Linked DNA regions of Homo sapiens: region 1 is linked to region 2. Evidence: fine-mapped expression QTL. Tissue or cell type: pancreas. Region 2 holds a variant in brackets; the other region holds the start of a gene. All regions are shown on one strand. Distances are between the middles of the regions.

The links. PIP is the estimated chance that this variant, and not a neighbour inherited with it, causes the effect.
Region 1: GTPBP3 starts here. The variant in region 2 is fine-mapped to the expression of GTPBP3 in pancreas (GTEx, PIP 0.95).

Annotation. Positions count from the first base shown.
Region 1 is chr19:17,336,253-17,338,870 of GRCh38, reverse strand. GTPBP3 (GTP binding protein 3, mitochondrial) reads right to left here and starts at 1,318. Exons shown (of 9, transcript NM_032620.4): 1 at 1,207-1,318; 2 at 616-863; 3 at 420-506; 4 at 130-332. The coding sequence starts at 1,259. RefSeq lists enhancers at 334-1,005, 1,006-1,677, 1,678-2,349.
Region 2 is chr19:17,369,906-17,372,660 of GRCh38, reverse strand. All of the region lies in intron 1 of PLVAP (plasmalemma vesicle associated protein), which reads left to right. Among named protein-coding and RNA genes, the nearest start is that of PLVAP, 6.1 kb to the left of the region's middle. The variant G/A (reference allele first, on the strand shown) is at 1,651.

The sequences.
Region 1 (2,618 bases), 34 kb after region 2:
GGCCAGAATGGCGGCTCATAGGCCGGAAGCTTTCACGCAGGGAATGAATGCGGGATTGAGAGGGGGTCTCATGCAGGGGTTGCACAGATGGGGTCTCTGAGGGAGAGAATGGACAAATGGGGGACTTGCTTTGGTGAGGGTCTCGGCCCAGCCACGGCAGAGGTGGCCCAGCTCTCCGTCCAGCTGCCTGAGGGCCTGCCGCCGCTGCGCCTCTGTTTCCGCGTGGATAAGGTCCGCCAGCCCCTCCACTTCGGTCAGGTTCAGCTTCCCATTGGCGAACGCCCGTCTGGTGAACTCGCCTGCCTCCGCCGGTCGAAGCCCTGGCACGCTGCCTGCAGGAAGGTCCCAGTCTGACACCCCCTGGTCCCCACCCAGGCCCATTGGGAGGACCAAGCATCTCACCCAACGCTGCAACTCACCCAAGGCCTGCAGGACGCCGCTCACCACTGCCGGGCCTCCATGCACGTGGAACTCCACGCAGTCCTCACCGGTGAAACTCTGGGGACCTAATGTGACAGACAGGTGACAGGAGGACAGCACAGCCAGTGCAAACCCTTGGAAGGGGGAAACTGAGTCATGGGACCTACAGGAGGCTCGGAACCTGGGGACCCTCACCTGGGAACCAGAGCACCAGTGCGCGGTCCAGAGGCTCCCCGGAGCGGGGATCGCTGAGCAGGCGCAGGCTGGCGTGGCGAGCAAGGGGCAGGTCTCGGGGTGCTGTGAGAATTCGGAGGGCGTGGCCGCTGGCGGGGCCGCTGGTCCGGATCACTGCGATGCCGCAGCGGCCTTGGCCAGAGCTTAGCGCGAAGATGGTGGCGCCGGAGCCGGGGGCTGGTGCGCCGCTGCTCCGGCGCGTGCACAATCTGGAACCGGAGGGGAGGCGAATCAGCGCACCTGGGAGGCTCAGCCTCAGTGTCAAGTAGACCGAGGGCTCGATGATCGCGAGATGCTCCAGGTGGGGGGGTTCTGCGGCTGGGGGATGCACAAATTGGATGTTCTGAAGGCCGAAGGGTGACCGGATTAGGGACTGTGAGGCCAGAAGGAGACCCAGATATGGGCTCTGCCGCAAGGGTCATGAACGATTGAGGCACGGAAGAACGCGAATGATTGCTCTGCCGCAGGGAATTGGGCCCCTAAAACCCAGGGAGTGGGTCTGGGGTCCAAGCAGCACCCCAAGCTGTCGCACCCCTTCCCCTGTAGCCCCACCTGCGAGGCCCACGTGCCGCTTGGGCCGCCAGGGTCCAAAGCCCCCGCCACATGGATTTACAACCTGCGACCCGCCTGCCCGACCTGCCTGTGTGGCTTCAAGTCTGGGCAGGGGGCCCCGCCCACTCCGCGGCTTGACTAGTAAAGTGCTCAACTATTCTCGACCACCATTGGGTATCTTAGGATACGTCCTGCCCACCGTCTGAAGATACTCGCTTCCATTGGCTGGTGCAAGGGAGAGCGGGAGCGGGAGGCGGTATGGAGGTAGGTGTAGCGAAATGTTGTTCCCCGGGCAACATGAGACCAAATTTTTAGGGTCCTAGCGCAGCGAGGCTGACAATAGGAATAAGGAATGGAAGAAAGGACAGAGTTTGGCACAGGGCAGTGCAAATTACAGCGAGGGGAGGTTTTGAGTCCCGCATTTTCCATCTGCTCACTCCGCAGCCTTAGGCGTGGCAAGGACCTATGTGCGTTCAGTTTTCCCGTTCAAGAAAGGAGGGACTACACCTCTTTACGTTCAGGTTCAGACCGGAAACTCAGAGCATCTCGGTGACCGGGAGGGACGAGTACTGGAGAACCCACGCCCTGATCCAGGGAAAATCTTGCCCGAACTTCTGGAAAGAGTCCTACTTGCTTTTTCCGGAACTCTCCAGATTCTCTCCCCTCCCCAGCGTTCCCTTCTGCCGTTCCCTCGGCTTCGGATGCCCTTCCTCATTTGACAAACTCGTCTTCAAGGCCTAGCTCCAAGATCCCCTCCTCCAGGAAGTCTTCCTGGAACCCCCAGCACAGCCCTCTCTCCACTGTGGACTTCCTTGGCTCTCTGTCTCTCTGGTCCAGGTCTGCACCTGCAGAGCCAAGTGTCCGGTCAGTCTCTGGCTCCCCGAAAGCCAGAAAGGGGAGCCTCGGAGATTGCTTTCAGGTTAACCCAGGACAGCACTGAAACTCGGAATAAAGCGCTGATGGTGGAATTCCAGGCACTGGCTGGGCGGGGTCTCCGGGAGCGCCTTCGCATGGCGGATTCTCTGGTTCTGGATCAGAGCGGGCGGGCGGCGCACTTGCGTGTTAAGAAAAATCTGTCTGACAGAATAGAGTTCTAATACCCCCTTACCTCGCCCTGCTCAATATTTTTATTTACTTTATTATTTTATTTTATTTTATTTTTGAGACAGGGTCTCACTCTGTCGCCCAGGCTGGAGTGCAGTGGCGCGATCACGGCTCTTGCAACCTCCAACTTTTGGGCTCAAGGGATCCGCCCGCCTCAGCCTCCTGAGTAGCTGGAACCACAGGCGCGAGCCACCATGCCAGTCTAACTTTTCGGTGTTTCTTTTTGTTTGTTGTTTTTGTTTGTTTGTTTTGTTTTCGTTTTTTTGGTGGAGACGGGGATCTCACTACGTTGCCCAAGCTTTTTTTTT
Region 2 (2,755 bases):
CACAGTGAAACCCCGTCTCTACTAAAAATACGAAAAATTAGCCAGGTGTGGTGGTGGGCGCCTGTAGTCCCAGCTACTCGGGAGGCTGAGGCAGGAGAATGGCATGAACCCGGGAGGCGGAGCTTGCAGTGAGCCGAGATTGCGCCACTGCACTCCAGCCTGGGCGACAGAGCGAGACTCCGTCTCAAAAAATAAATAAATAAATAAATAAAAACATTATTTAATTATTTTATTATTATTATTACTATTTTTGACACAGAGTTTCACTCTGTCGCCCAGGCTGGATTGCAGTGGCGCAATCTCAGCTCCCTACAACCTCTGCCTCCCGGGTTCAAGTGATTCTCCTACCTCAGCCTCCCGAGTAGCTGGGATTACAGGCACCCGCCACCAAACCCAGCTAATTTTTTGTATTTTTAGTAGAGATGGGGTTTCCCCATGTTGGCCAGGCTGGTCTGGAACTCCTGATCTCAGGTGATCCACCTGCCTCAGCCTCCCAAGACACCTCTTCTCTATAAAAAATAAACTAAAAATTAAAAAAGAAACTTAAAAATCACATCCTTTTTTTTTTTTTTTTTTTTTAGAGACATGGTGTCACTACATTGCCGAGGCTGGTCTCGAACTCCCAGCCTCAAGCAGTGTTCCCACCTCAGCCTCCTAATGACTAAGGCTTTTGAGAACAGAAGGCATTCCCCATGTCCCCCCAGGACATTCACCCAGGGCCAACTGCAAAAGGATGAAGGACAGAGAGTTGCAGAAAGACAAACTCTCCTGATTCTTCATGTCTTATTATATTTCTGCAGAGGGTTCTCTTCCAAAGTTTGAAAGGCATGGCTTTAGTTTGTTAAATTGTGAACACTTTCTTTAAAAACAGCTTTGCTGGCCAGGCGTGGTGGTTCACACCTGTAATCCCAACATTTTGGGAGGCCAAGGTGGGTGGATTGCTTGAGCTCAGCAGTTTAAGACCAGCCTGGGCAACATGGTGAGACCCCATCTCTATAAAAAATTAGCCAGGAGTGGTGGCACGTGCCTGTAATCCCAGCTACTTGAGAGACTGAGGTGGGAGGATTGCCCGAGCCTGGGGAGGCTGAGGCTGCAGTGAGCTGTGATCACACCACCACACTCCAGCCTGGGTGGCAGAGTGAGACCATGTCTCAAAAAAAATAAAATTAAATTAAAATAAAAATAGCTGGCCGGGCGTGGCAGCTCACGTCTGTAATTCCAGCACTTTGGGAAGTCAAGGCAGGAGACTGAGGCCAGTGGATCACTTGAGGTCAGGAGTTCGAAACCACCTGGCTAACATGGTGCAACCCCGTCTCTACTAAAATACAAAAATTAGCTGGTCATGGTGGTGCACCCCTGTATTCCCAGCTACTTGGGAGGCTGAGGCATGAGAATCACTTGAACCCAGGAAGTAGAGGTTGCAGTGAGCTGAGATCACACCGCTGCACTCTAGCCTGGGCCACAGAGCGAGACTCCATCTCAATAATAATAATAATAATAAATAATTTTTAAAAACAGCTTTATTGATATATAATTCATGTATTTTACAATCCACCTATTTAAAGTGTACAATTTGATGTTTTTGTTTGTTTGTTTGTTTGTTTTGAGATGGAGTCTCGCTCTGTCGCCCAGGCTGGAGTGCAGTGGCGC[G/A]ATCTCAGCTCATTGCAAGCTCTGCCTCCCAGGTTCACGCCATTCTCCTGCCTCAGCCTCCCGAGTAGCTGGGACTACAGGCGCCCGCCACCACGCCTGGCTAATTTTTTGTATTTTTAGTAGAGATGGGGTTTCACCGTGTTAGCCAGGATGGTCTAGATCTCCTGACCTCGTGATCCGCCCGCCTCGGCCTCCCAAAGTGCTGAGATTACAGGCGTGAGCCACCGCGCCCAGCCAATTTGATGATTTTTTTGTAAATTCACAGAGTTGTACATTGATCACCACGATCCATTTTAGAACATTATTTTAGAACATTTTCACCTTCCCAAAAGAAAACCCACGTCCCCATCAGCAGTCACTTCCCATTCCCCTCCCCCAATCCCTGACAGCCACCAACCTGCTTCCTGTCTCTATGGATTTGCCTGTTCTGGGCATTTCATGTCAGTGGAATCTCACATTCTGTGGCCTTTTGTGTCCGGCTTCTCTCACTTAGGCATCATGTTTTTGGGGTTCACACACACTGCAACATGGATCAGTGCTTCCTTCCTTTTTATGGCTGAATCATGTTCTATGTATGGAAGGAACACATTTTGTGCGTTAATTCATCTGCTGACAGGCATTTGGGTTCTTTCCACCTTTGGCTACTGTGAATCGAGCGGCTGTGGACATTCCTGGCAAGTTGATGTGAGGATGTGTTTCCATTGCTCTGGGTATATGCTGAGAAGTAGAGTTTCTGGGTCACGTGGTAACTATGTTTAACATTTTGAGGAACTGCCAGACTTTCCCAAAGCCGTTGCAACATTGTACATTCTCACTAGTACTGTCTGAGAATTCTGATTTCCCCACATCCTCATCAACACCTGTTACTGTTCATTTTGGGGGTTTATGGGTTTTTAAAATAGCCACCCTCGTGGGTGTGTAGTGGTATCTCACTGTGGTCCTGATTTGCATTTCCGTAATGGCTAATGATTTTGAATATCTTTCTTTTTTTTTTTTTTTTTTTTTTTTTAGACAGACTCTCGCTCTGTCACCCAGGCTGGAGTGCAATGGTGTGATCGTGGCTCACTGCAACCTCCATCTCCCGGGTTCAAGCAATTCTTCTGCC